Regions from separate parts of the Homo sapiens genome. Here regions 1 and 3 are each linked to region 2. The links come from fine-mapping of genetic effects on gene expression. A gene starts in region 2. Each other region holds a variant in brackets. All regions are shown on one strand. Distances are between the middles of the regions.

The links. PIP is the estimated chance that this variant, and not a neighbour inherited with it, causes the effect. A credible set is the group of variants that fine-mapping cannot tell apart.
Region 1: its variant is the best candidate, but not a certain one, in a credible set for the expression of ADRA1A in lung (TOPMed, PIP 0.79).
Region 3: its variant is the best candidate, but not a certain one, in a credible set for the expression of ADRA1A in esophagus muscle (GTEx, PIP 0.74).

What each region holds. Positions count from the first base shown.
Region 1 is chr8:27,001,489-27,012,140 of GRCh38, reverse strand. It overlaps the pseudogene LOC100132229. Among named protein-coding and RNA genes, the nearest start is that of MIR548H4, 42 kb to the left of the region's middle. The variant C/G (reference allele first, on the strand shown) is at 4,463.
Region 2 is chr8:26,862,765-26,873,416 of GRCh38, reverse strand. ADRA1A (adrenoceptor alpha 1A) reads left to right here and starts at 6,139. Exons shown (of 3, transcript NM_000680.4): 1 at 6,139-6,481; 2 at 7,762-9,330. The coding sequence starts at 8,448. RefSeq lists an enhancer at 6,918-7,869.
Region 3 is chr8:26,837,087-26,847,738 of GRCh38, reverse strand. The region is part of intron 2 of ADRA1A (adrenoceptor alpha 1A); the gene reads left to right. Among named protein-coding and RNA genes, the nearest start is that of ADRA1A, 25 kb to the left of the region's middle. The variant T/G (reference allele first, on the strand shown) is at 5,319.

The DNA.
Region 1 (10,652 bases), 140 kb before region 2:
CTGTGTCTTATCTCTCGGAACACGGGCACCCCACAGAAGGTCCTGCCTCCTGTGGTCTGGAGCCCCCCCTCAAGGAAGAAACCCATGCTGTCTGCTCGCAACTCCATGATGTTTGGACACCTCAGCCCCGTGAGGATCCCTCGTCTCAGAGGCAAGTTTAACCTTCAACTTCCTTCATTAGATGAGCAGGTGATCCCAGCCAGGCTCCTGAAGATGGAGGTGAGGGCAGAAGAGCCCAAAGAAGCAACGGAGGTGAAAGACCAGGTAGAGACCCAGGGGCAGGAGGACAATAAAATGGGCCCCTGTAGCAATGGGGAAGCAGCCTCCACCTCTAGGCCCCTGGAGACTCAGGGAAACCTCACTTCCTCCTGGTACAATCCCAGGCCCTTGGAGGGAAATGTCCACCTCAAGAGCTTGACAGAAAAGAACCAGACTGACAAGGCCCAGGTGCATGCAGTGAGTTTCTACTCCAAGGGCCATGGAGTCGCCAGTTCACACAGCCCTGCTGGTGGCATCCTTCCCTTTGGGAAGCCTGACCCACTTCCAACAGTGCTCCCTGCCCCAGTTCCGGGCTGCTCCCTGTGGCCAGAGAAGGCGGCCTTGAAGGTGCTGGGTAAAGACCACCTGCCCAGCTCTCCAGGCTTGCTGATGGTGGGGGAGGACATGCAGCCCAAGGATCCTGCAGTTCTTGGATCAAGTAGGTCTTCTCCACCCAGAGCTGCCGGCCACAGGTCCCGCAAAAGAAAACTGTCGGGGCCACCACTGCAGCTGCAACTGACCCCTCCCCTGCAACTGAGGTGGGATAGAGACGGGGGGCCCCCACCGGCTAAGCTTCCATGTCTATCTCCTGAGGCACTGTTGGTGGGTCAGGCTTCCCAAAGAGAAGGACGCCTCCAGCAGGGCAACATGCGTAAGAACATGAGGGTGTTAAGTAGAACATCAAAATTCAGGAGACGAAAACAGCTGCTTAGGAGGAGAAAGAAGACACGGCAGGGCAGGCGTGGTGGCTCATGCCTGTAATCCAGCACTTTGGGAGGCCCAGGCGGGCGGATCACACTTGGCACTCCTCACTTTGCAGACAGGACGGCGGCGCAACCTTCCAAGTGTGAAGTGACAGCCTTGTGTGTGATCTTTCTGCCCTCCCCAAGTTTGCATTTTCGACATTAAAGTTTACTTTTTAATTAAAAAAAGGAGATCGAGATCATTCTGGCCAACATGGTGAAACTCCGTCTCTACTGAAAATACAAAAATTAGGCCGGCATGGTGGCTTGTGCCTGTAGTCCCAGCTACTCGGGAGGCTGAGGCAGGAGAATGGCTTGAACCCGGGAGGTGGAGGTTGCAGTGAGCCGAGATTGCACCACTGCACTCCAGACTGGTGACAGAGCAAGACTCCGTCCTGAAACGATGTTGTGGTTGAGAGCAGGATGGTCTTTTGGGACAGGAGGAACAAGAGGTTCTGGTTGCCACTCTTCAATCAGTTCTTCTTTTTCTTTGACTGTAAGATCAGATCGTTCTTGTAATTTGTAAGTCTTAGAGAAAAGAAGTCTGATTATCCAGAGTATCAGAATCCCTTCCAAAATAAGATGGTAAGCAGGAGCCTCGTAAAGCAACTGTACCATCTCCACCAGAACCCACTGCTCCATGGCGGTCGCCATAGTTAGCCGCTTCCTTCCGGAAGGCTAGGGGTTAATTTTAAAAAGCTTCATGGAGGAGATAGTAACTAAGGTGGTCCAGGAAGAATAGGGACATGATGGAGGGATGAAAGAAGGGAGGTAAAAAGTGGGACAAAGAACACTGGAGATGGAGGGAATGCTATGAAAGAAGATACCGAGGCTTTGGGAGATATGGGAGTCGTATGCACGTGTAGGCAGTGTCTTAGTTTGCTCAGGCTGCTGTAACAAAGTGTCATAGGCTGAGAGGGTTTTGTTGTTGTTGTTTTTTGTTTGTTTGTTTTGGTTTTTCTGAGACTGAGTCTCGCTCTGTTGCCCGGGCTGGAGTGCAGTGGCACGATCTCGGCTCACTGCAACCTCCGCCTCCAGGGTTCAAGAGATTATCCTGCTTCAGCCTCCTGAGTAGCTGGGACTACATTCATGCGCCACCATGCCCAGCTAATTTTTGTATTTTTAGTAGAGACGGGGTTTCACCATGTTGGCCAGGATTATCTCGATCTCTTAACCTCGTGATCTGCCCGCCGCGGCCTCCCAGAGTGCTGGGATTACAGGCGTGAGCCACCACGCCCCGGCCTGCTGAGTGGTTTAAACCAGCAGTCCCCAACATTTTTGGCACCGGGGACGGGTTTCATGGAAGACAATTTTTCCACAGATGGCGGGGGCTGGGGGCGGTGTAGGGGGGATGATGGTCTCAAGATGAAACTGTTTCACCTCAGATCGTCAGGCATTAGTTAGATTCTCATAAGGAGCGCACAATCTAGATGCCTCGCGTGCGCAGTTCACAACAGGGTTTGTGCTCCTGTGAGAATCTAATGCTGCCGCTGATCTGACAGCAGGCGGAACTCAGGCCATAATGCTCACTGACCCGCAGCCACTCACCTCCTGCTGTACAGCCTGGTTCCTAACAGGCCACAGAACAATACAGGTCCACGGTCTGGAGGTTAGGGACAACCCCGTGGTTTAAACAACAGAAATTTATGTTCTCACTGTTCTGGAGGCTGGAAGTCTGAGATCAAGGTGTCAGCAGGATTGGTTTCTCCTGAGCCTCTCTCCTTGGCTTGTGGATGGCCACCTTCTCCCTGCGTCCCACATGGTCTTCCCTTTGTGGGTGCCTGTGTCCTAATCTCTTCTCCTCATAAGGACACCAGTCCTGTTGGATTAGGGCCCATCCCAGCGACCTCATTTTACTGTCATTAGCTCTCTAAAGACCTTATCTCCAAATACAATCACATTATGAGTTCCTGGGGTTAGGAAGTTAATGCATGAATTTTGAGGAGAAACAGTTCAGCCCACAGTAGGCAGAATCACACAGTCATTATGCACACAGGCTCTGGAGTTCAAATCCCCACTCTGGCACTTATTAACTGTGCAGCTATGATTAAATTACATAAGCTTTACTGTGCATCAGTTTTCTCAGCTTTGAGGTAGGATAACAATAGTAACCTTCTCCATAAGGGTGTTGCAAGGATTAAATGTGTTCCTGTATATACCTGGCACTTAGTGAGTGCTCAGTAAATGTTATCCATTACTAGGACTGAAACAAAAATTTAAACACTGGATAAAAATGCTCAGAGACTGCTTTCAAAGTTGAACTATTCCACTAAGTAGGAGTATGATCTTGGGAAATTTACTCAGTCAATGAAATATTAAGTAGTGTGTACTATGTTTCTATCAGTTAACCTCATTGGGATTTAGCATTTTCCTGTATTAAAACAAGAGGTTTAACAAGATTGCTTTTTGAGTCCTTTTCAGTTCTGGCATTCTGAGAGTGTGTTCATCACACATGGATTGAAATGTGAGCTCATTGTGCAGGACAGAAGGAAACAAAGATAGAAAGAAAGGGGGACAGTAAGTTGTCAGGGGCTCCGAGTGCTGCTGGGGGAGGAGTTAGTATTCTAGGTATTGGCAAGCTCTTGTAGGGTTCTGAACAGATGAACAACTTAGTAGGTTTCCAATTCAGGGTAAGGATCTCAAAAATACAAAATTATTGATTAAGGTCATCTGTCTCACTTTATTGTAGCAACCAACAATTCCTGTATAAATGACTTAACCCAGGGAGGAAATAGTTTACAATTTGAGGTGTCAAAAAACTCACTGTTAAATAGGTAATTTTAAAAACTCTATTGTTTACTGTTTAGCTAACAATGAAGAGATTAAACTCCTTGGGCTGATGCAGGGGCAGAGACAGATGAGAGCTCGGTCCCAGATGGGGATTCCCCACCTAGGTGGCCATCCAGCTGCACCTTGAGAAAAAAGTGTTAGACAATTTGAAAACCAGCATTAAGATCATTATTCAGAAACATCTCATTTTACAGCTACATTAATTCAACAAATATTTACAGAGTACCAACCATCTGCCAGGAACTGTGCTAAGCTCTTCTAAAGCTTTACATTTTAATTAGGTGAGAGACAAAAAAATAGCAAATAAATACATCAGCAAGATAGTTGCAAAATATGATATATGCCTTAAAAGATGTGACTATGCACAAAGAGTATCCTGGGTGTGGGCCATTTTAGATTGGGTGATAGGAGGTGGCATTTGGGGTAGGTAACATTTGGGGCTGGCTCTTTGCAGTGGGCATTGGTTAAAGTCCACAGCTACCTTCATATTTGTAAAGTATTCATAATACCTTTTGAATCCCTATCTAAAGTTTGCAGAATTTCTCACCTTGTGCTCTCACCCAAAGTTAAAGGAACACCTTGCTTTCCTAGCACCTTGAGAGCAAAGTGCAGGCATGAGGCATGAGCTCTGCCAGTCCCATGCACTCACTGGAGATTCCAGCTCAGAAAAG[C/G]GTGATGTGAAAGGGGTGATGCCCTTAAAGCATTTCAGGAAGGCTAGTGGGTCTTGGCTGAGACATAACAGGAAGAGGTCCCAGTGGTGGCACCCCCCAATCTAGCATCATGGAGCAGGCTGTGACACAATGTGCAGGACACCTGTCAGATTTCCTCTGGAGCAAGCTGTCCATGCCATTGTTCAAGCTGCTCCCTGGCCCATCTGCAGTCTCCAGGAGCCTCTCATGTGATTTAATAAATTGCATTCCTGATTGAACTAGCTCCAGTGAGCCCTGCTCTTTGCAACTTAGAACCCCGGTGGGTGTAGTAATTGATTCTAGAAGTGTCTGCTGTCAAGAAGCCTTCAAGTAAATGGAATGCAAGGATGATAAGGTAAGCTGGCTGCTTCTGAGCTGAAGAGCTTAAAGAAAGAAAACAATTTCCAAAGTATTTGTTAGCCCAAGGCATGGTCAGAAAACCAGGGACTTTCTTTGATTTCTATGGCTGTGCTGAAAGAATCACTTATCTTTACTGCAGACAGAGGGCTTCTGTAGCCAAAAATCAAAGTCAAGGGTTGAGTCTGAGGGTTGCCAACATTCAGAGTCAGAGGAATTCACTGTATTGCCTGATTTCATTGGTGGATATTAAGGCATCAAAGAGGAATGACTATAATCTTGAATATGGGAACTGGACCAAAGAAGAGGATTTGGGGGCCTTATACTCCTAACCCCCAAAGACCTGTATAATGGAAAACACCCCTCTTTCCAAATCTGATGATCCTCTTCCTGCCTTGCTTAAAGACCTCCTAATGGCTTCATTCATAGCATTAACCTCTTAAAATGTCCTCCAGGCCTCCTCCCCACCCCTCCCAGACATTGTCTCTAACGTATAACTAGGTGCAGAACCCTGTGGGCCCTGGGATGCTAAAAACAAATCATACCTAGGAAAAGGTTTACACACCAACGATTTGTAAGAACTGCCCACTAACAGAAACTTTTTAAAAGTATGTTTCACACATACTTTTAAAGGAGAGTAAAGTCTCTAGGCAAAAAAAAATGATGGATGGTTCTCTAAGGTCCCATTAAGTCTATGTAACTGAGAAAACTTTAGTACTGCCTGCAGGACAGGTCCCTGGATAGCCTTGGCCGGCCCAGCTCTTCCCTCTCTTGCTTGCAATGCAACATCCTAAGATAAGAAGGAAATGTCCAGAACATCTCAGGCTATATCTTCCTTCCTCCCAGACTAGGATGTTCTGCAGTACTTATGCTCAGCAATCCAATTTGCACCCAGGGTATAAAACCCAGAACGAAATACTTCCAGGGTCCCTCAGCTGCAGTGGAATGTGGAACACATACCAATGAGATTCCATCTGCACTGCACCACTTTCCTTCTCACTGAAAGGCTGGCTCGCCGTGGACCCTAGGCTTGTGTTTATCCTTGTGACTACATGTGAGTAACAAAGTCACTTTGCCTCACTTGTGCCAGTGTCTTGTCTTACCAGATTAGACCTGAGAGCCTTCACTGGCCAACAGGGCCCAGCATAAGCCCTCGAATAGTGATTCACAGATTCTGAGGGATTTAGGCTAGAGAGGGCTGGACATAGTTTTGGATTAGGCTAAATATTTCATTAGGCATACTCTGTAAAGATAGTCTAGGTTAAAATAATTAGCTTGACCACCCTGAAGTGCCTCTAGCAACTTGCTCTTTTGGCAGAATTAAATTGAATTCAGTGGTGGCCTTCTTAAGAGAAATTGATATGCCAGAAATTCCTCAGTGCAATGAGCAAGAAAGATACCAAAGTCCTAGAGAGATAGGAATGTAGAAGATTGGACTGTCCACTAATCTATCCCTTAACCTCATACCTGAGTGAGCATGGAAGACATGGCACCCACCAGGATGTAGATAACTGCATGTGGGTGGGGAGTATCAACATCTCTAAAAAGCTCGTTAGCTGGCTCTCTTTAGGCAATAACGTGAGTGGAAGATGCTACTACTGACATGGTCTTTCTGGATGTCAAATAGCAGCATCCAACTGTCAGAGATAAAATGGGTGTGGACCAAATATTAGGCAGCTGAGCCACAGTGGGAAGTACATGCTTCAACCCACAGGGATCTTTGCTACTTGCTAAGGGATAGTAAAGTCTCTGACACAAAATTCATGGATAGTTTACAAATGTCCTATTAGGTCTGCGTAACAGAAAACTTCAGGATGGATAAAGAAAGGTCTGGTTTGAGCCTCAAATAGAGAGTAACAGCCTCTTACCCAATTCCTGCATTTGAATCAGCTCAAAAACTCACAGCCCTTTGAATGAAGAGGAGGCTGGAGTCTTGACAACATCACAAGTACATGTGATCACTGTTCTTCCCACCCTTCTCCCAAAGAGACCTGAGCCCTTTTACTAGGGAACCCATATACAATAACAAAGGAAAACACCTAGATATTTTAGAGATTATTGAACACTGGTTCAACAAGTCTGGGAATGCATGACATCACTACAGTCTACCAGCTTTGCTACGGAGGCTATCTGAGAAATGTTGTTTTTCCTGGAGTCTACCTTATGAGGAGAGTAGAACTCCAAGGCTATCCTTCCCAGTTAACTGTGTGCATGGCTAGAAAGAAATGCCTGGCTCCCTGATCCACGGAGGAAGGCCTATTATGTTAGAAATATCCAAATAAGAACCCGTGGAACTGTTATTTTCCTCCAGAATAGTAAATCTAAAGTTTCTTTGCAAATGGGTGAAATTGTCAAGGTCATTGTTACCATCAAAGACTTGAAAGTTGCAAGGATGGTGCTTTTTGTCACATTTTCATCTCAACTCACCAACTGATCTGTGAAGAATATGGAAGCATCTTGGAAGATGACAGATTATGGCAAGGTAAATCAAGTGACAACAGCAACTGTAGCTCCTAGCAACTGTGTGCAGCTACTCATAAGCTTTATAATTTTTGTCTTTGTTTTTTCAATACCAATATGCAGAGAACCCAGAAAAAAGTTGCTCTCACACGAAAAAAAAAATCAGGAATCCACTGTTACTCTTTGATGTCTGTTATGGCAATTTTCAGTTCTGTATCACAATAGAGATTCTAGGAGCCTTGATCATCTCACCATCATGCCAGAACATCACCCTGGCCTTCTGTAACAGGGATGTCATGAAGACAGAACCTGGAGAGCAGAAAGTAGCAGGTACTAGCATGCCTCTTTAAGACATGTATAGCTGAGGATGAAAAACGCAGTACTGTGGCTTTGCAGTGCAGTGGAGTCTTTTGTTTGTTTGTTTGTTGTTTGTTTTTTGAGATGGAGTCTCGCACTGGTGAAGTCTTTTTTAAAAATAATTTTCACTTTTATTTTAGATACGGGGGTACATGGGCAGGTTTGTTACATGTATATCACGTGATGCTGAGGTTTAGGATACAAATGATCTCATCACCCAGGTAGTGAGCACAGTACCCAACAGGTAGTTTTAAAACCCATTCTCCTCTCCCTCTCTCCCCGCTCTAGTAGTCTCCATTGTGTATTGTTCTCATCTTTACGTCCATGAGTACGCAGTGTTTAACTCCCACTTATAAGTGAGAATGTGCAAAATTTGGTTTTCTCTTCCATGCAGTGACATCTTGCAGTGTGTCCAGTGGTTAAGGGCACATTATAAACGACATGTGTAACAATGTGTTCCCCCTTTTCCAAGGCTGTCCTGAACACCATTGCTGAGGGCCCAACTTGTCAGCACCAGTAGCCAATCCTGATTGGCACATCATACATTTGGGAGAGTAACCCTCCACCTGGTGGCAGGTTAGGTATATTATACCCCTTCTATGATGGAGGGGACTGTGATTTGCCCTTATTGGAATAGACACATATCATGGATGCATATTTGCCTTCACTGTACATAATGCTTCTGCCACTAATAACATAAGGATTTGCTGAATACGTTGATCACCATCATGGCATTTTACACAACACTGCTTTGAAAAAGGGAGATATTTTATAGCAAGTAAGTAACACAATAGCCTTACATTCATGAGATTTCCTGGTCTTTCCATTTACCAAAATCAGCTTACTCTAGAGTAGAGTTGAATGGTCTCATATAATACTTGACTTGTGTAATACAGGTAATACATTGTACTGCTGAGACATGGTTTTCTATAGAACACAGTATATATTTTGAACAAGAAACCTGTAGATATTCTTTTTCTGACAGCCAAAATACTTGGATCTATAAACCAGTGATGAAAGATAAAATGGCATCCCTTGTTATTATACCACTAGATCACTTGCAAAATATTTTCTCCTCCTCCCCTAAGAGTCTTTGTCTCCAAGAGAAGAATGCTTCTTTAGGGGCCACACTGTATTTCCATTCAATGAGAGGTTAAACTGGTCATTTAAGACTGCTTGGCTGGGTGCGGTGGCTTACGCCTGTAATCCCAGCACTTTGGGAGGCCTAGGCGGGCGGATCACCAGGTCAGGAGATCGAGACCATTCTTGCTAACATGGTGAAACCCCCATCTCTACTAAAAACACACAAAAAAATTAGCCAGGCATGGTGGCGGGCACCTGTAGTCCCAGCTACTCAGGAGGCTGAGGCAGGAGAATGGCGTGAACCCGGGAGGCGGAGTTGCAGTGAGCCAAGACCACACCACTGCACTCCAGCCTGGGCAACTGAGCAAGACTGTGTCTCAAAAAAACAAAAAACAAAACAAAAAACAAAAAAACACACAAAACCGTAAACACATTGTGCAGCTGTACAAAAATATTTGCTTTCTTTATATCGTTATTCTCTAAGCTTTTTTATATTTTTTACTTTTCTTTTTTTTTTTACTTTTTATATTTTTGTTAAAAATGAAGACACAAACACACATATAGCCTAGGCCTATACAGGGTCAGGATCATCAATATCACTGTCTTCCACCTCCACATTTTGCCCCACTGGAAGGCCTTCAGGGGCAATAACAGGCATGCAGCTGTCGACGACAATGCCTTCTTCTGGGATATTTCCTGAAGGACCTGCCTGAGGCTGTTTTACAGTATTTTTTTAATAAGCAAAAGAAGTACACGCTAAAATAACAATAAAAAGTATACTCAACACACAAACCAGTAAGATAGTGGTTTATGATCAACCTCGTGCATTAGGTACTATACGTAATTGTATGTGCTATATTTTTATATGACTTTAAAAGTAAGTTAGTTTACAACAGCATCACCACCAAACATGGGAATAATGTATTGTGCTATGACGTTATGATGGTGATGATGTCAAGATGGCTACGATGTCACTGGATGCTAGAACATTTTTGGCTCCATTATAATCTTATGAAACCACATCATATATGCAGTCTGTGGTTGACCAGAATGTTGTTATGCAGCCCATGACTGCGCATGTGGAATGGGCAGCAGAGGAAGGAAGTAATTGTCACTACAGTCTTGAAAAGTTTTAACCTAAAGAGATTTGGGTTTCTCTTTTAGGGAGAGATGACATATGTTTTCTTTTTTGTTTATTTATTTATTTATTTATTTATTTTTGATGGAGTATCACTCTATTGCCTGGGCTGGAGTGCAATGGTGTGATCTCAGCTCACTGCAACCTCCGTCTCCCGGGTTCAAGCAGTTCCCTGCCTCAACCTCCCGAGTAGCTGGGATTATAGGTGCCCACCACCATGCCCGGTTAATTTTTGTACTTTTAGTAGAGACAGGGTTTCACCCTGCTGGCCTGGCTGGTCTCGAACTCCTGACCTCATGATCCACCCACCTCAGCCTCCCAAAGTGCTGGGATTACAGGCATGAGCCACCTTGCCCGGCCCATATGTTTTCATTTGCATAAAATATAATTGTACTAAATGAAGTAACCATTTCATAGTTTTTGGTTGTTGTTTGGAAATTTAAATCTGGTTCGTAATACTGGGCAACCAATAAGTAAACTGTTGTTCAAATGTTATTAAAATTGTGAAAATGAACAATAGTTTTCATGCTCTTATGTTTTGGAAATGTCCTATCTTTAGCTCTATCTCTGTAAAATGGAAACCTGAAATTTTCTTTTCTAGTCTCCTTTGAAGCTAAGACTCAAGCATTAGACAAATTTCCTCAAATCAGATGCACCCATGTGAAACTTCTATTTAAAAGTGAGTAATGTTACATGTATGAAACAGACTCTAAACACCCCAGTTGAAAACAAAGGTGTGAACTAAAACTTAAACTGCTTTCTTGAAGTTATTGAAGA
Region 2 (10,652 bases):
TAAGAGAATCTAAGTCAATTATGCTCCTTGCTGTAGATCAAATGGCATGTTTTCAAGGCCACCATAATACATAAGAAGTTCTTACAAATCAATATGATAAAAGAGGAAAATACCAATATCAAAATGGGTAATGGACATTATACCAAATTGTCTGTTGTCCACTCAGGGTCATTTTTTTTTTCTTTCTATGCTCTTCTCTGCATTGCAAAGGCTAGAATAATCTGTGCCATCGGGATTCTGGGTCACAATTCACCAATGAGAGGAATTTTGTGAGATTTTGGAAAGTGGAAGAGAAGCGGAAGCCATTTCTCACCCTGTAGCAGTGTTGTGCAAGGATGAAGACTTCAGCCAACAGTAGAGGTGAGGTTCTGCCAGGATCTCCTGGGTGACCTGCACATCATTGGTGCTTTAGGCAGCTGAAATCACCAACACGGTTTCCTGATACACCTGCACTTCAGAATTCCCAGAGGTTAACAGTAGCTTTCTCTAATCTGTTTCCCAATATTTCCCAGCAATATTATAAGCCTCTGATTCCCTGTATTAAATCCTTCCTACGTGAAACAACTACAGCAGTTTCTGACCAAATCCTGGTGTATTAGTTTGTTTTCACACTGAGACTGGGTAATTTATAAACAAAAGACGTTTAATTGATTCACAGTTCTGCATGGCTGGAGAGGCCTCAGGAAACTTATAATAAGGTGGAAGGTGAAGGGAAAGCAAGGCACCTTCTTCACAGAGCGGCAGGAGAGAGAGGGAGTGCAGGAGAAACTGTCATTTTTAAAGCTATCGGATATCATGAGAAGTCCCTCGCTATCACAAGAACAGCATGGGGGAACCCACCCTCATGATCCAATCACCTCCCACCAGATCTCTCCCCTGACACATGGGGATTAGAATTTGAGATGAGATTTGTGTGGGGACACAGAGCCAAACCATATCACCTGGCTAGCAGAAATACGGACAAGCAAATCACAAACGAAAACATAGAAATGCCAAATAAATGTAAAGAAATAAAATCATAACTAAAGAATACAAATTTTAAAAAATGAGATATTATTTTTTACTTATAAAATTGCCTACGGTTTATTTTATTTACATATATTATGTACTTGTCTAGTTTATTATAAACAGTCAAAGTTGGCAAGAGACAAACAATAAATAAGTAAAAAAACAAAAAACAGGTTCTGTTATGCACTCCTATTGGGAGTTTATATTTTACATCTACATTTGTAAAACCTTTCTAGAGGTCAATATCTGTTATAACCTCTTAAATGTTCATAACCTTTGTTATTCTAATTTTAGTTACAGAAATTAATCTTAAGGAAAATTTGGAGTACAATATTATATGTAAGAGTATTTATCAATGTGGCACATATACACCGTGGAATACGATGCAGACATAAAAAAGAATTGAATTCATGTCCTTTGCAGGGACGTGGATGAAGCTGGAAGCCATCATGCTCAGCAAACTAACATAGGAACAGAAAATCAAACACCGCATGTTCTCACTCATAAGTGGGAGTTGAACAATGAGAATACATGGACACAGGGAGGGGAACAACACACACTGGGGCCTGTCAGGGGATGGGGGGCAAGGGGAGGGAAAGCATTAGGACAAATACCTAATGCATGTGGGGCTTAAAACCTAGATGATGGGGTTGATATGTGCAGCAAACCACCACGGCACATGTACACCTATGCAACAAACCTGCACATTCTGCACATGTATCCCAGAACTTAAAGTAAAATAATAAATAAATAAGAGGATTTACCACAGTTCAAGTTATAGATCAGAATTTTTTTTAAAGCCTGAATATTTAAATATTTAATTTGTCATGACATACAGTGTCTTAGTCTGTTCAGGCTGCTATAACAAAATACCTTAGACTAGATAATTTATAAACAAAAGAAATATATTGCTCGGGAAGTTGCAAAGTCCAAGATCAAGGTGCCAGAAGATTTGATGCTAGGCAAGCGCCCATTCTTCATAGATGTCGCCTTCTGTGTGTTCTCACATGGCAGAAGGGCAAAGAGGCTCCCTCTATTATAACAGCACTAAGTCCATTCCTGAGGATGGAACCCTCGTGACCTAATCATCTTACAAAGACCCCACCTCTTAATACCATCACCTCGGAATTTAGGCTACAACATATGAATTTTGGGGAGAACACAAACATTCAGACAATAGCATATACATATAATAGAATCACTGTGGAGCTCTTATAAACCATGTTTTGGTATAAATGTAATAATAGAATGAGTTCATGATATAATATAAGTGAAAAAGTAAGATATATAATTATAGGTACAGTATGATTACACTCTTTTATATAATGTATACAATGTATAATATGTGAAATATATATGTATGCATAATAAATACATGTACATAAAATATTTCCTGGTATGTACATGTGTATATATATTTTTCCATGTATATAATTTATACACATTAACAAAAAATGAGAAAATATGACAAATATTTAACAATAGCTATTTCTCCAGTGGCAGGATTACAGATAATTTTTATTTTCATACATTTCTGTCTGACTTTTCCAAATGTGCTATTATGAGCATAAATTTTATAATTAAATACAAGTCAATAAGCATTTTAAAGTGCCTATAACAGCCCATCAGCAAGTGAAGAGATGAGATAAAAATGTGTCTGCACTTGGTACACATATTGACTTTCTTTTACTTCCATTTCCAGATGATATTGACAAAGATATTGAAAAAATTTGATTAATATGCCTCAGCTTAGATTTGCTATGCGAGAGCAAAGTCTTATTGTTTTAAAGGAATTATTTGCTGATCAGCTATAGGCTGACTTGACCTCATATTCCTACCATGATAGTCCCACAGTGTAGGGATGGGGTGGTATGACTCCCAAGACTTGGAGTATGTTATTTTCTCAGGGCAATGAAGATTTGGAAAAATGATGGCAAAGACAGAATTACTATCTCATCAAAGACATCCCTCAGCAGTATCTGTGGGCTGTGCAGTGTTCTCAGTTCGATAAAGGATTAGAACACAATGCTTCTTTGGAGAGCTGTGACTTGATACTGCATCAATACCTTTCTGAGAATTGTTTTTCATTTTCTTGCCTCTTTAACTTATTAAGCCTTAGGAGAATTAGTTGAAAAGCCAAGTCTTTGGGGTAGATACTAACATTAAGTCTTCTACTCTGTCATTTGCAATCATAAATTCCAGAACACAGCTCCTAATTCCATTGTGTATTGTTTTCTAAGGGAATGATAGACAGATTCTTTATTTTTTTAAACCTCTAAGCCTACCACACTTGCCGAGTTCCTCACTAGTCACTAAGAAAGTCCTGCCAATCAATGCATGGGTTTATGTCCATTGCTCAGCTCTTCTCCAATCAGACTCATTCCCCCAGCATCCCTGACACACCACTCTAAAATGCGGCTGCTGATGGTTCACCTTCCTCACTTTTGTCTACAAATCTCAATCCTGCTGATTCCACAAATCCTACATCAAGCAATATCATTTTATGAGTCTTTCCACAACCACCCCTTCAGGGGATTCTTCAATTTCTGTCACACCGGAAGTCTTCAGAGTATCACCCTCAGAGCCAGGCAAGAGGGACCCCGGCTAGGGTTTCAGGCTTTAGAGAGTCCAGCTCTGACTCCTTTTGGCCATAGGACTAATGTGATATGCCCACCTGGAGCCTGTGCCCTCCTTTCTAGACCATGCCCTGGGACTCAGAATCCCTTGCCCCAGATGGCCACACAATCACTTTCAGGTCCATTCTCTCTGGGCAGACAACATCACAAATGTGTGTACCCCAAGGCCTGAGGCCAAGAAGGCAGCTTTCTGGCTGTAGGGGCTGAGGTGTTCACACACATTTGCATGGCCCCTCAAGACAAAGAACAAGGGGGAAAGTGAGAAGAAAAGAAGCAGCCAGTGATCAGGGCCAGCTCTTGCAACTTAACCATGTTGGGTCATTCTGATTAAACCACTTAGCTCAAGTGTAGTGCTCAAGACACTTAGCACATTCTCCAGCTGAATTTACCAGTGTTCATGGACTACCTGGGTTAGAAATATATTTCACTATAAAGTAGCATACAAAATGAGCAGAAAGGGAGTTAATAAGATTAATAATAGAGTTAGTGAATATTATGAGCTGAGTTTTTGAGAAACGTAATTTCTTTCAACACTAATAACAACCTTGTGGGGGTTCATTGTCTCCCTTTAAAAATTAGGAAACCAAGGCTTTGCCATGGTCGCATAGGAGGGTCAGAATAGCATCTTTATGACCCCAGAGCATACTCCTCTCCACTCCACCTACCCATGTGTACAACTCAGACACTTTCTGGGATGTCCACGTCAACTATTCTTTAAAGAGTAACCAACAGATGGATAGTTTTCTGTTTGTGAATCAATGGTAGGTGACTGAAAAATTGGTTCTGAGAGGTCGTTTTGCAAGGATTGATGGTCACAGGCTGAGAAGCAGATTTGAAAGACCTACCTGCTAGCAGCATGAAGAGCTGCTCTTCCTTATCTTAGTATTAACTAGTTAATTATTGGAGGTGGGTGCAGGGGTGGATTATGTGTATTCTTAATTGTTGTAGAGTGGGGACTGGGAGTTACAAAGACTTTTGCAATTTTCGACCTTGCAGAGCTGAGCAATTTTCAGTTGCTTTGCTTGCTGATAGCACTGCTTCCCTTATCTACCATGGAACACATCTTAATGAAGAATTTGCATTCACAGCATCAGGTTAATGAATACAAAACAAAACAGTGTATATCCCTCTGATGGATGGGATTTCGGAAGCACAGACATTATACACATATTTGATGATAAAGTACTAGAAGTGCAGGGAATTGAGGTCAAGCTTCCTCCTAAGGGGACTGAATCCCAGAGAGAGCAGGTGACTTAGTAATGAGAAGTGGAGCTGTCTGTTCAACCAGGATGCTCCTCCTATGGCACGAAATTCAGTTTTAAAAATATATTAAATTCAAATCAAATGTGTTAGGTGTGAGTTCTATCCCTACAGGTATGAGGCAGAGGTGGAGGACTTTGTATACAATAGAGAAATAAATACATATATTAGGTCTTCCATGACATAGGATTTACTGACCCTCTCATGGGCATTCCTCTGAGGCATTTTGAGATTTATTGCTATAAAAGAGCCTCCCAAACATTATCTCACTTAGAAAAGGTAATCATATTAATATGATTTTGTTCACAGGAGAGAATTTAAGTGCCACTGCTTAAAGTTATCTCCTTGTTCCTAGGTTTAAGGAGACCTAGTAAATAAGAACATTCCACTTTGTCTGCATCAATAAAGATGAAAGATGACTTAGGAGGTGGGAATTGGAGTGGGAAACATTTTTCTATGTTCCCGATATTCTGAAACACATGTGACTTTATTCAATCACAAGGTAAACAGATTATGTAATTTACCAGAAAAAAAGTAATAAGACTGGTGGTGCTAGGTTTTCATACTCCAGCTATTAATGAATTAAAGAGAGTAACACTCCTGAAAGGATACCATTTTCTCAAGAAAACTGGAAAAGATTGTGTGGCATTTAAAAAATACCAAACTCTGTGGCCATAATGCTCTTAAAATTCATCTGTCTAAAGAAATTAGAAGTGAATCATATTAAATAAGGTTTAGATATGTCCACTTTATCTTCCTGAAAATATAATTTCATTACAATCAGATTTGTCATATTTTATCTGATTTTACTTGCTATTTAAAACACCTTATAATTTACTTGCATATTTAGAATTACAATATTCTTAATATACTTCTTGATCTTAACAAAACCTAGGCCAAATGTTAATCAAATCAAGCTGTTCAAAGTTACTTTATAGCACATTCCTATGAACACACCATACACACAGCAATATCTAGCAAGGGTGTCAATTTTTCGTTATTTTTAAAAGCTCATTTAAAGAAGTTATTTACTACAAATGACTCTACACACACACACGCGCGCGCGCGCGCGCACACACACACACACACACACACAAACCTTTTTAAAGAAACGCTAGAACCCAACCCCCTCTAGGCCAGAGGAAAACATTACAGCTGTATACGCACTTGTGCCTGTTGCCGTAGAGTAATACGGTAGCAGCAGGAGATTACGGTACTAGCTGGGCTACTGCCTGAGTTACGTCAGCGAGAGCTGCAAAGTTCCTTGCTATTCTTTTCTGGTGTCGGGGAGCTGAATATTAAAAGGGTGATTGTGGAGTTACCGGTTATCTGCATTTTTTTTTCTTTTCTTATTTTGACTCTTTTTAAAAAATGCAGGTAAAGTGACAGCGGTTCAGGAGCTTAAAGACATCAGTGGTGGAGGGGTGAGTCAGCGGGTGCAAAAGGACAAGGATTTGGTGCCTCGGAGACACGGTCCCCTCTCCGCCTCCAGAGAAGAGCAGGCAGGCAGCTCCCGGGACCGAAGCCGGGTCCACATCCCCCGCGCGCGAGCTGGTGGCTCAGCAGCGGCGCTTCAGGTGAGTGCGCCGGGGCCGGCGTCCCGCAGGGCCGAGTGGGTGAGGGCAGACCTCCCCCGCCGTCTGGTGAGACGGAACCCCCACTTTTCCCAGCGCCTCCCGCTTTTTCCACCAGGTTTTATACCGGCCCCTCTACCCCACCCCCGATTCCCTTACATCTTCTGCGAAGTTGCCTTCTACTGAACAAGTGTCTTTTTAACCCTGTGTTTATCACCCTCGAGGTAGGAGGAAAAGGGTTTCTGCAGTGGCACGTTTTTAATACCACCTGTGAGGTCTCCAACTTGCGATTTTAACAAGAGTCTTTGCCCGAGGTCCCACCTCAGGGCCCAACCCCAGAAGGCAAGGTGGGCACTTCCTCACGCCGCGCTGTCCTGCCGAGTCCCTGCGGTAGGTTCGCAGTTGTGGAAACCCAGGTTTCTTACGCAGATGGTGGCCCCCAGCCCAGAAAATCGAAGGCGGCCCCTGCCCGCTGGCATGCCGGCTTAATGTTTACGCCTGCAAAATCCGCAGTGACTGTCACTTGCAAAGCTCCCTCTGCAGAGGGACGTCCTCCCCACCCCGTCCCCCGCCAGTCCCGCTACGGCTGGCAGCTGGAGCCCCTCGGGTGGCCAACAGTGAGGCTTGGAAAGGCGTCGTGGACAGACCTGGGTCGCTTTCTGTCTTCGGGTCCCTCCCGGCTTCGCTCGGGACCTGGCTCTCAAGCCAGCTTGGCTGGTGGACAGACCGGTGCGCTCTGCACACCCGAGTGCGAATTCCACCGGCGTGAGAGTGAGCGTGCTCGTGGTCCTGGCCCTGAGGTCCCTGGGTCGCAGCTGTTCCCTCTCCCAGGCCGCCCCCTCCAGGTGACTGCGAGGCAACCTGTTCTAACGGAAACCGAGTACATCCTCCAGAATTCCCCGGCTAGGATCCGTGCGACACACTCGCCAGCCGCAGTCGCCCCTCCGGGGCTTCGAGGATTTTAATTTCGTGGTACCTGCGCTCGAAATCCAGACTTCGAGCGCTGGAGCCTGGGGTTTTGGGGATTTGTTTTTTTGTTTGTTTTTCGCTTCGGATCCTGAACTCGGGCAGAGGTGACTCAGTAGAGTGCGCTAGGCAGGTTCCCAGTGGTGGGGGCGCGAGATGAGCTCCGAAGTCGCCTCCACCGCTGCCGGGCGAAGCAGCTTCTGGACCGCAGAACCAACCCGGCTCCCAACTGGTGTCCCCCAACCCGTCAAGCTCAGCACAGCCTCTTTCCCTGGGGCGCCTAGCTCAAAGCCGCCTTTCTCTTTGCGCTCTTTCAGGTGGACGCGGTCAAACGATGCCCCGCAGCCTCCTGGGTCTCAGCACATATTCCACACCTACGTCCCCTGACCTGTGCTCCTAGAAGCTGGAGAGAGCAGGAGCCTTCGGTGGGGCAGCTCAAAATGTAGGTAACTGCGGGCCAGGAGCAGCGCCCAACCTGTAGCGCTGCGCTACCCAACCATCGGTCCCTGCCTTTGAGCGTCGACGGCTGATCTTTTGGTTTGAGGGAGAGACTGGCGCTGGAGTTTTGAATTCCGAATCATGTGCAGAATGCTGAATCTTCCCCCAGCCAGGACGAATAAGACAGCGCGGAAAAGCAGATTCTCGTAATTCTGGAATTGCATGTTGCAAGGAGTCTCCTGGATCTTCGCACCCAGCTTCGGGTAGGGAGGGAGTCCGGGTCCCGGGCTAGGCCAGCCCGGCAGGTGGAGAGGGTCCCCGGCAGCCCCGCGCGCCCCTGGCCATGTCTTTAATGCCCTGCCCCTTCATGTGGCCTTCTGAGGGTTCCCAGGGCTGGCCAGGGTTGTTTCCCACCCGCGCGCGCGCTCTCACCCCCAGCCAAACCCACCTGGCAGGGCTCCCTCCAGCCGAGACCTTTTGATTCCCGGCTCCCGCGCTCCCGCCTCCGCGCCAGCCCGGGAGGTGGCCCTGGACAGCCGGACCTCGCCCGGCCCCGGCTGGGACCATGGTGTTTCTCTCGGGAAATGCTTCCGACAGCTCCAACTGCACCCAACCGCCGGCACCGGTGAACATTTCCAAGGCCATTCTGCTCGGGGTGATCTTGGGGGGCCTCATTCTTTTCGGGGTGCTGGGTAACATCCTAGTGATCCTCTCCGTAGCCTGTCACCGACACCTGCACTCAGTCACGCACTACTACATCGTCAACCTGGCGGTGGCCGACCTCCTGCTCACCTCCACGGTGCTGCCCTTCTCCGCCATCTTCGAGGTCCTAGGCTACTGGGCCTTCGGCAGGGTCTTCTGCAACATCTGGGCGGCAGTGGATGTGCTGTGCTGCACCGCGTCCATCATGGGCCTCTGCATCATCTCCATCGACCGCTACATCGGCGTGAGCTACCCGCTGCGCTACCCAACCATCGTCACCCAGAGGAGGGGTCTCATGGCTCTGCTCTGCGTCTGGGCACTCTCCCTGGTCATATCCATTGGACCCCTGTTCGGCTGGAGGCAGCCGGCCCCCGAGGACGAGACCATCTGCCAGATCAACGAGGAGCCGGGCTACGTGCTCTTCTCAGCGCTGGGCTCCTTCTACCTGCCTCTGGCCATCATCCTGGTCATGTACTGCCGCGTCTACGTGGTGGCCAAGAGGGAGAGCCGGGGCCTCAAGTCTGGCCTCAAGACCGACAAGTCGGACTCGGAGCAAGTGACGCTCCGCATCCATCGGAAAAACGCCCCGGCAGGAGGCAGCGGGATGGCCAGCGCCAAGACCAAGACGCACTTCTCAGTGAGGCTCCTCAAGTTCTCCCGGGAGAAGAAAGCGGCCAAAACGCTGGGCATCGTGGTCGGCTGCTTCGTCCTCTGCTGGCTGCCTTTTTTCTTAGTCATGCCCATTGGTAAGTCTTGAACACCCCTCACTTTAGCATCTGGGGGTCTTCACCCTCCTCGGCTTCTGTTACCCCAGACTCCCAGTCCGGGATGGAAGAGGAAGGATTAGCATTTCAAACAGCACAGCTCTAGGGCAATTAGAAAAGGCTCCCTTGTAGAAAAGTGAATTTTCATTCTCTTTCTACTCCAGTCTCATTTATATTAGGTCCTAGAGCACTTTTTCGACTGTAAAGTGGCTTCCAACTGATGCAGATTAATTGGTCTCTTTAATAAGAATGTCAACTTTTCTTAATGCCTATAAGCACGTGTTCAATTTAAATGCATCTGCTCTCTCTAGTCTCAGAGTCTCCACCAAGTGCTTAGGCTGACTGTGGAATGCCATTTTCACTCTGCTACAGAATGCAAATTCTCTTGGCCTGAAAATAAGTACCATGCTTATTCTGGACAAATGTGTGATTTTATTATTGCATTAGGTTATTCATAAGGGTTTGTTATAATGGTCTGTTTATGTTCTATATCTGTGCTAATTTTATTTTCTGGATTCAGTATGGAAGGAATTATGGTCAGCCACTAAGAAAAAAAAATGATTTTATGTCCAAACCAATTTAAGCCTTAAATAATTAATCATAGTATTTCCAATAAGTAAATACTTATTTTTTTATTTTAATAATAAGTATTAAAACAAACACTTCTCTTATCCAAAATCATCCGGGAAGTTGCAGATAACACTGTTTGAAAATAATACAGTACACATAATGTTACAAATCCAATTTTTGCAGATGCTAAATTAGCTGTTGTCAAAATTAATTAGCTCATTATAAGTATCAGCAAGCTGATCCACTTGGAATAGACATCTATCTCCTTCAATGAGATCCCAAAATGGTTGTGTGCTATTTTTAGTTTGTAAGCTCAAATACAGACCCAAACATCGATTATCCACCAACTCTAAAAAACAAAACATTATGCCTAACATTAATAAAAGTCCATTTCAAGTGCTTTACAGCCTAATTTAAATGGCATATACTTAAAGTACTTTAATTTGCAACTCTGTGGAATAATAGCAACTATTATTTTTTTGTGCCACTTATGTTCCAGACATTTTCCTAAGCTTTTTATTTCATTAGTCCCCTCGACAACTCAGTGAGTTATACACAATTATCCTGCAATCACAAGCCATGGGAAGGGATTCTTCAGGTTCTAATACCATAGCCACCAGCCAAGGATAGCTATTTAAATGTTAATTGAAATTAAATAAAATTCTTTCAGTTCCTCAATTCCTCAGTCCCACTGACCACATCTCAAGTGCTCCATAGTCACACGTGGCCAGTGA
Region 3 (10,652 bases), 26 kb after region 2:
CAAAGGAGAAGGAGGCAAGGTTGACAAAGGGCACATGAGCTGTCATTATACTGGAATGCTGGCAGAGCAGTCGTCTTTGCCCAAAAAGGGTTTGAAAAGGGAACATTGCACATTCACTTTTTTTATGTGCTATCCACATTTAGCTTATTGCCAGGGCATTCGTTGCCAGTGAGAAACCTACTGTCTACAAGTGGACTGCGTAGTTTAGTTCCTCTTAATGAAAAAGGTTTTGGACATTTACCTGGAATTTTCATGTTGTTTTGTTTCATGAGTTTGCTGTCATTTGGAAATTACTAAAGAACAATCTCAGAAATGGGTTTTTAAAAAGAAACTTTAGGAGAGGAAAAAATCCCAGGATAATAAACTTTTCCTAAAGAGGTCACATTAGTAGTTCTCAATCGGGGGTGATGTTGACCTCCAGGAGGCACTTGGCAAGGTCTGGAGACGTTTTTCTTTTTGTTTGTTTTTGTTTTTGTTAGTGTTTTTCTTTTGTTTTGTTTCTTTTTTTTATTTATTATTATTATACTTTAAGTTTTAGGGTACATGTGCACAATGTGCAGGTTAGTTACATATGTATACATGTGCCATGCTGGTGCGCTGTACCCACTAACTCGTCATCTAGCATTAGGTATATCTCCCAATGCTATCCCTCCCTGTTCCCCCCACCCCACGACAGTCCCCAGAGTGTGATGTTCCCCTTCCTGTGTCCATGTGTTCTCAGTGTTCAATTCCCAGCTATGAGTGAGAATATGCAGTGTTTGGTTTTTTGTTCTTGCGATAGTTTCCTGAGAATGATGATTTCCAATTTCATCCATGTCCCTACAAAGGACATGAACTCATCATTTTTTATGACTGCATAGTATTCCATGGTGTATATGTGCCATATTTTCTTAATCCAGTCTATCATTGTTGGACATTTGGGTTGGTTCCAAGTCTTTGCTATTGTGAATAATTTTTGTTTCGTTTTTTGAGACGATGTCTCACTGTTACCCAGGCTGGAGTGCAATGGCGCGATCGCGGCTCACTGCAACCTCTGCCTCCTGGGTTCAAGTGATTGCCCTGCCTCAGCCTCTTAAGTGGGTGGGATTACAGGTGCCTGCCACCACGCCTGGCTAAGTTTTTGTATGTTTTTAGTAGAGACAGGGTTTCTCCATGTTGGCCAGGCTGGTCTCGAACTCCTGACCTCAAGTGATCCACCCACCTCGGCCTCCCAAAGTGCTAGGATTACAGGCATGAGCCACTGCGCCTGGCCCAAGATCTCTTTCTGTCATAGTGTCACAATTGGGGTGGGAGATGCTGCTGGCATTGTGTGGGTTAGACCAGGGGTGCTGCCGAATGTTCCACAACCACAGGACAGCCCCCACAACAGAGAATTAACCAGCCCAAAATGGCAATAGTGCCAAGATTAACAAACTCTGGTTTATGCTACAGGAATTCCTGAAATTTACAAAAATACATCAGAAACAGCACATTTAAAGCAGACATCAATTATTATTATTGTTCAGCTTTTGTTTACTGTGTTGCCAACATCTTAGCTAGTGATTCAAAACAAAACAAAACACATGAACCAAACAAACCCTGAGGTCTCCAGATGCCTTGAGGTCCCCAAAGAGGCAATATTTGTCTACTCACTTTGTTTTAATTGTAATTAAATTCACATAACGTAAAATTCACAATTTTAACCATCTTAAATTGTAAAATTCTGTAGCATTTAATACATTCGCAATGTTATCCAACTATCACCACTATCTAGTTCCAAAGCACTTCATGACCCCAGAATGAAATCTGGGTCCCATTAGCAATCACTCGGCATTCCCCACTCCCCAAGTGCCTGGCAGCCATCAATCTGTATGGATGTGCTGATTCCTGATACTGCATATGAATGGGATCATATATGTGACCTTTTGTGTATACCTCTTCATTTTGCATAATGTTATCAAGCTTCATCCATGTTATGGTATGTTTCAGGACTTCATTCCTTTTGTATGACTGAATACTATTTATTTGTATGAATGTACCATATTTTATTTATCTGTTGCTCCATTGAGGGTCATTTAAGTTATTTCTGCCTTGTGACCACTATGAATAGCATTGCTATGAACATCCATGTACAAGTTTTTGTTTGAGTACCAGTTTTCAGTTCTTTTAGGTATACCCCTAGGAGTTGAATTGCTCGGCCATATGGAACTTCTACGTTTAGCTAATTAAGGAACTGCCAAATTGTTTTTCACAGCAAACGCCCCAGTTTACATACCCACCAGCAATGTTTGAGGGCTCTAGTTTCTCTACATCCTCACCATTACTTGTCATTTTTTAAAATGATGTCCATCCTAGTGGGTGTGAAATAGTATCTCTAGTGATGTTGCTTTGCATTTCCCTAATGACTAATAATGCTGAGTGTCTTTTCATATGCATGTTTGGCTATTCATGTAACTTCTTTGGAGTTATATCTATTCACATCCTTTGCCCATTTTTTAATTGGGTTATTTGTCTTTTTATTGTTGAGTTGCAGGGGTTATTAATATATTCTGGATGCCAGACCCTGGTCAGATAATTGATCTGCAAATATTTTCATTCGTGGGTTGCCCTTTCACATTCTTGATAGTATCCTTTGGTGGACAGCTGTCTTTAATTTTTATGACATCCAATTTATCTACTTTTTCTTTTGTTGCATGTGTTCTTGGTGTCATATATCTAAGGAGTCATTGTCTAATTCAAGCTTGTCCAACCCATGGCCAGGACGGCTTTGAATGCAGCCCAATAAAAATTCATAAACTTTCTTAAAACATTATGATTTTTTCCAATTTTTTAAAGCTCATCAGCTATTGTTAGTTTTAGTGTATTTTATATGTGTCCCAAGACAACTCTTCTTCTTCCACTGTGGTCCAGGGAAGCCAAAAGATTGAACACCCCTGACAAAGTTGCAAAAATGTATCCTTATGTTTTCTCCTAAGAGTTATAGTTTCTCCTAAGAGTTATAGTTACACTTAGGTCCTTGATCCATTTTGAGTTAATTTTTATACATGATAGGAGGTAAGCTTCCAATTTCATTCTTTTGCTTGTAGAAATCCAATTGTCCAAGCATCATCTATTGAAGAAATTATTCTTTCTCCCACTGAGTGGTCTTGGCACCCTTGTCGAAATTCAACTGATCATAGATAAATGAGTTCATTTCTGGAGTCTAAATTCTATTCCATCAAATGGAATTGTATTCCACATTTCATATGTCCTTTATCCTTATGACAGTACCACACTGTTTTGATTACTGTAGCTTTGTAGTAAGTTCTGTAATTACTACCCACTATTTTTTACATCTCTAAAAGTTTAATAGAAACTTTCAAAAAGACTACCTCTTTTTAAAGAAAATGATGTAGAATAGGACAGGTACACAATGTCTGTATTCCTAAGTTCAAAAGCTCTGAAAATTGCAAGTTCTCGATTAATAATTTGGGGCCAAAATCTGACCTTATCAGAACTCATTTGGCAGTGAACTCAATCTGAACTCAGGTGAGTCCATTTGTAGATTTTATATTTTACACGTTGTGTTGCAGAAATATTTCTGTGTTTGATTGTAGGGTGCTGACCCATATCCCACTGGTAGTAGTATACAATATACAACATATGATCCAGATGACCTTTATAAAATCTGAAAAATCCTGATTTCCAAAACACATCTAATACCAAAGTTTTTGGAAAAGGAATGGTGGACCTGTATCACAATACTTGTTATCTCATGATGCTCAAAACTCCCATGATTTTTAAATCTTTGATTAGAAAAACACAAAGGGAAACAAATAATCATAACTTGCTTCATGCACTAACATTTATGGCACAACACGTGTTCGCCAATTTATTAAGCACTTTACCACTGTGTCTCTGCAGCCATTGTGGTCCGTTTGTGAATTCCTTCAGATATTTACACAATGTAAAATATTGCACTTGAATCAGTTCCTTTGTTTTAAACTTTGCCCTTCTGGATCATCCCTTAAGATGAAAATGCCCAGCTTTTCCATGAGGCAGTTGCACTGTGATTCTGGTACATCCAATCCTATATTCTTAGCCCATTACTCATTATTCATTTAATTCCATAGTTCCTCTATATGTTGATGAGGAGGTATTTTTATCCTCATTTTATCTGACAAAAAAAATTTTGTCTACATAGTTTTAACTGCCTCATAGAGCCATGTTGATCATATGGCAAGCAAGGTGTTCACCATGGCCATCAGTTCCAAGAGAAAATAGACAATCCTACACTCTCTACTCCAACCCTGATCAGCCCATGTGGTTTACTGGACAAAGGGAAGAAGTGGACAAATGAGAGGAATTGAAGCTGAAAAGAGCCAGGAGAAATAGAGGGATGAGCAGGAAACTAGGGGACAAAGGGAGTAAATTATTAACAAGGCGAGTCTAATGTTCACTGAGCTCTCAGATGTTGTCACATCCAGTTCTTATCCTGCACTTGCTGATGAATCAAGACATGTTCACAAAGCACTGAGCATCTGCTGCGGGCTCGGTTCTGAGCTAAGTCTTCTGGAGGTCAGGAAGAAGAAGAGCCACTTTCTTCAAGTCTAATCTGGGGAAAAGGATAGCACACTTGAAACAATAGTCATCAGGACAAGATAACACTCATTATAAATGGTCTAGGAATCCAGAGGGGAGATATGCCAGGCAGGTCTTAATTAGGGAAGTTTCCATAGAGGGAAGGAGTCTTTAACTGGGTCTTGAAAGGTAGAATTTGAAAAGCCAATAGCGGATTTGAAAAGCCAATAGAAGCTCCAAGACAGGAGTGAACACAGCACATTCATGAGCTTGTGAGATAATCCTTGAGTGGTGTGTGTGTGTGTGTGTGTGTGTGTGTGTGTGTGTGTGTGTAGAAAGAGAGAGAGGGAGAGAGAGAGTCATGGAAAACCAGACTTGGTGGGACAATATTATTATCCAGACTTGGTGGGACAATATTATTGACCCAGACCAGGGATGATATTATTCTGGGTGTCTTTTTGAAAACCAGACAAAGGTTTTGGCCATGAAATCAGAGGAAGTGGGGAGCCACTGGGGGTTTGAGGCAGGGAAGCAACATTGCAGAGCAGTGTTAGAATAAGATCCGGTCTGCAGTGATCGCAAGGTGTGTTGAAGTGAGAGATTCAGGCTGGCTGTTTAGGTTTGAATGAGGACCTGCTCAGGGGTGTGGCAGTAAAATACAGAAGGTCGGGGAGAGAACAGGGATATTTCAAGGCAGGTCAATGGGAATCAGAGACTGCGTCTGAGGAATCAGAGTGGAATTAATAAAAGAGGCTTTTGAGCTTTGCATGCAGTAGGGA[T/G]TAGTTGTCCATAGACAGAGAGGCTGGGAGAGGAGTTGGTTCCAGAAAACCTTTAGTATTGATCATATTTTGCCTGAAATGATGGTGTTTAAGTGAAACTATCTGGAACTATGCTGTCCAATATGGTAGCCTCTAGCCACATGTAATAAATTAAATTGAAATTGAAATTAGATAAAATTAAAAATTCAGTTTTGCAGTCAGGCTAACTGCATTTCAAGTACTCCATAGCTCCATATGGCTAATGTCCACTGCATTCAACAGCCCAGGCAGAGAACATTTCCATCCTCTCAGAATGTTCTGTTGGACAGGGTTGACCTAGAGATCAGCAGAAATAATTGGCATTTGGTGAAGAAGAGCTCTTGAGATGAGAGTCATGGGAATAGAAAATAGCAAAGCTAAGGGAATGGGTCATCTCCTAAGGAGGGCTGAATGTTAGAATATGTTGGCATCAGTAGGCAGAAGAAAAAACAAGCAGAACTTGCACAACGTTTTGGAAAAGTGGGAGACTCACCACAGCATAAAATCCTGGCAACAAAAAGAAGAGAGAATTTTAGTGAAGAGAAAGTGGCGCCAATATCAAATGCAGCAGAGAAGTCAAGGGGAAAGAAAAGGAGAAAAAAAATAGCGTTTAGTAATCTGAGGTCATTTGTGACCTATCAAAGCTGATGCAGAGTTGGGAAGAGATGTCACTAAATAGGAATGCCACCAGCTTTCTCTTGTGCTAGGGTAGGAGTTTGGGATCTAGGAACAGTTTCAGCTGAATGTTAGGGACAGGAGGCTTGTCATGGAGGATGTGGAAATAAAAGTGGAGGTGAGGAACAGAGCCAGGACCTGAGAGGACAAAGCAAAGGGATGAAAGATTGTGCTGTCGCCATCAAGGGCTCCACCAAGGGTCCAATTTTGTTTTTGTTTTTTTCCAAGAAAAGAAAAATGAGTACAGAAGGAGGGGAATCTGCAGGCAGTGGTTGAGAGGATTTGAATGCAAAGGATATCTGGGAAAGCCCGATGCCTTCACAGTTAGAAGGGAGTAAGAAAGGAGGTGCAAGGGTGGGGTAGGCTTTGGTGGCTCAGACAGTGGGTGGTAAAGGAAACTGTAGGTGGCCTTGAGACTGTGGTCCTCTGAGATTGGAACGGTCACTTGAAGCCAACCTGTCAGCGTGATCTGCCTGCTACTTCCCACTTCCCTTCCACTGGATTCTTTTTGTGATTGCTTTCCATTTGGATTTCAGTTTATGCTTTATGTGCTTTATTTCATTGAATCCATGTGAACATTTGGGGGCAGTTGGGCATTTTGATTCTCATTTCCAACCTGAGGAAACTGTGGTAGAGGGTGGTTAAGTAACTGGCCCAGGATCATGCAGCAAGTAAGTGACAGAGTAGAAATTGAACCTGTTCCCTCTGGTGCCCTTAATGTCCTCTGTAGTCTTCACCCAGTGCACTCATGCAACCAGCCTATTCCTGCTATCATGACTGGCTTGCTACAACTGTGATCATGCCCACATAAGGCTGTGTTTGCTCTCTATAGCCATAATTCTCCTGTCATTACTGAGAGGTGGAAAAATGTTTGAGGGGAAATAACACAAATAACACTTCCTGGTGTCAACCCAGCCTCCATAGGGGACAAAAATGCTTAGCAACTCTTTCAAAGTATCCAAGACAAAACTTGACCTTTAAGCGGTTTCTCCATTTAGAGTTAAATTTGTCTTTAGCAAATATGGTTTGAATAAATCAAGACTTCCTGTTTTAGCTATTTAATGGGGAAGGTAATAATTCCAATCTGATTTTAAATTTTTCTTTTGCCAAATTCCACAGGGCAAGAAAAAAAAAAAAAGAACGCTAAAGTTCAGGATAAAAAAGAAACTTCCCAAGAAGTGCATTGGTACAAACCACTGCTGTGGTCATCATAAATGTCTTTTACTTTTACTTTCCAAACCAAAGTCTAGGGTTTCCATGGTAACTGCTTTGGCCCCAGCTGGTTTGCATCATGTTGTTTGTATAGAAGCCAGTGGAGCAGGGCTCGACTGTGTCACAAAGTTCAGGTGTCAATATGGATCTCCCGGGACAAATACCAGAAAGAAAAATATTGCATGCAACACCTTCTCCTACCCAACCGCTACTTTCCCAAACCCCAGCACTCTGCTACTGTGCTGACCAAATGCCCAGGGATTTCCAGTCTCCCATCCTCTCAAAGTCAAACCTCCAGCTGCATCCAGTTGTGACTTCTGTATATGTCTAACTGTGTCCATTGGAAGGGAATTAAAGCAGCAGGCTTTTAATTTACAAATGTTGCATCCATTCGAATGTTCTTGAGCAATAGTGTTTCATAAGGGTTACAACATAGATTCAACAACCCCAGCCAAGTGCAAACTTGAGAAATTGCAGATTGCCTTCCTGTGATTCACCCAGAATTCCAGATGGAAATTATTTCTCAAGGTCAGTGCAAAGCTCCGTACAAAGGTGTCTCCTATAGAGAACATGTGGTGTGAGGCTGGACCGAGGGTCAAGGCTTCCATTCCTGTTTGCTCCTTGACCTTGGCAGAGTTAGCCTGCCTCCGAGAGCTTCTCTCTAGCCATAGGGGAATCACATAGTTTGTGCCTTTCCTCCCCACACACCCTTCCCACCATCCCACCCCAAGACCTGCTCCTATTTTCTAGGCTTGGTGAGGGCACTAAGGAAGAAATATGCCTCCTTCCGCCAAATTACTTCCATTTCTTAAAATAAATCCCAGCTTTTCTCTTCTGGGAAGCCACCCCAGAGTGGACTAAGATCTCAAAATATCTTTTATTTACTTTATTCAAGAAACATTGAGAGTCTACCAGGCGCCAGACAGGAACAGACCCTGACTTCAAGGTGGAGACTAGCATGTAATTAAGCCCAATAAAGGACCAAAATCATTGTACAGGTACAGTCAGAGGAGGCTGGTTTTCCAGTTTGAAGTTTAGGAAGTCAAAAAACTTCTTCAGGCCGGGCATGGTGGCTCACGCCTGTAATCCCAGCACTTTGGGGGGCCGAGGCAGGTGGATCACAAGGTCAGGAGATCGAGACCATCCTGGCTAACACAGTGAAACCCCGTCTCTACTAAAGACACAAAAAATGAGCTGGGCGTTGTGGCAGGAGCCTGTAGTCCCAGCTACTTAGGAGGCTGAGGCAGGAGAATCACTTGAACCCGGGAGGCGGAGGTTGCAGTGAGCCAAGATTGCACCACTGCACTCCAGCCTGGGCGTAGATCGAGGCTCCATCTCAAAAAAAAAAAAAAAAAAAATTCTTCACAGAGAAGTGAAGCACCACTTAACTAGCACCCTTATTACTTTCTAATAATTAGCATGCATAGTCCATCATTATATCATATGCTTTAAATACACAAATTTGCTTGCAAGTCTATCTTGATATCTATTGAAATAAAAATCTCTAATGTAAAGACCTGGTTTTCATTATACTGGGTTTAATATCTGACTTGTCCAGGATAGAGCTAGTCACATGGTGAGGGTCAGGTGGCCTTAACTCTGGTTCCAGAGCTGAGGGGACACATTAGAGGACACACTGGTGGTTTACCTGAGGGGGTGGCCCTATGCAGACATTAAGGAGGGAGGCCTTTCCTCTGTGTCCAGGTAAGGAATGGATCCACATCTAAGGCCAAAGCTACAGAATAGGGACTTGCACACAGTACCTTTATCTTCTACCACTTTTTTGATAGTAATGGCATCTACATTTTTACCATTTCAAATTTTTGAATGACCCTGGTTCTCCCTTGCTTTGTGCCATTGGGAAGCTTCCTTCTCTCCAGGGCTCAGTTCTTCACCAGCTGAATGATGAAAGTGGCTTAGGTGATCATCTTGTAAGCTCTAAATTGTATTCCATAGGCCTAACCTGAATCAGTCTTATCAGCTTGGAATCCTCAGGGCCTAAGCACAGTAGTAAGTCCTGAATAAATATTTGTTCAATTAAATTGAAGAGACTCAAAGTCAAGTCCTGCATTATTGGAGAGCATAGAGATTCCAGTTATTGTCCTCTATTTCAGATGAGCAGCGGGGTGAAGGGTCTGGATTTTCTACTCATCACTAAGCCTCGGAAGGTGGTGTCAGTGACTGGGATCTGCTTGTAAGCTGCTCCAACTTGGCTTCTTCAGATATAGATTCATACAGAGCCTAGACCTGTGCCTTGCTTTGTTAAATATCTGAATGTAAAAAGGAAAAATACATCAATTGTCCAAAGTACTTACATGTGGTCTTATAAACTAAAGAAAGTAACCACATAGATTTCTGGTGCCTGAAAAAAAGAAAACATGTTGTAGAACATCTGTATCATTAAACGCCTGTCCTGGTTTGTACTCAACTACTTGGCTTAACTTTGCACAGTCCTGAGAAATACAAGTCTTGTGATTGGTATAGACAGCCAACTGGAGCAACTCAAGCCGGAAAAACAACACAATTGTCCTGGTTGTACATTGCACTGCATACAATCACTAAAAGACAATTCTAATTCTGTCTTCCGTATTACTTTGGTAGAGACTAAAGTAATGTATTGAGATAGGAATCAAAGGCAGTAAAAGTGGGAACATTCTGAGCATACATGGGAGGTACTGAGCTTCTACTCATTGAGCCTTCTCCAAACATGTCAGCTCACTCAGGTGTGTGTCAGAATAGCCCTTGCAAAATTCTCTCATAAAGCAAAGCTTTTTTCCTTGTGCTATAACACATCCCCACTGTGGGCACCGGTTAGGCCTCAGGCTATCTAGCCCAATGGCTACTGTACACTTTTTTTTTTTTTTTGAGACAGAGTCTCTCTCTGTCACCCAGGCTGGAGTGCAATGGTGCCATCTTGGCTCACTGCAACTTCCACCTCCCAGGCTCAAGCGATTCTTGTGCCTCAGCCTCCCAAGTAGCTAGGATTATAGGCATGCACCACCATACCTGGCTAATTTTTGTGTTTTTAATAGAGATGGGGTTTCACTGTGTTGGCTGGGCTGGTCTCAAACTCCTGGCCTCAAGTGATCTGCCCTCCTCAGCCTCCCAAAGTGCTGGGATTACCGGTGTGAGTTGCCATGCCCAGCCTGGCTATTGTAGACTTTAATAGGACTCTTAATTTGACTTTAATGTGACTACTTCTCTTCCTATCTGTGCTTCTTCATATAGACTCTGCACCGCACTTGGAGATATTTTATCCCACATAATCAATGTCAGACAAAAATAAATTTAAAAAGCTTTTTTAAAAAGCCTGAAGAGGTCCAGGCACATGCCTGGTAGAGGAAGGTGAATTCTATATGCTTTTTTTTTTTCTATTGACAAGGACAAATATCTCTCAGCACTTATATACTAGCCATTGTATATCTACCT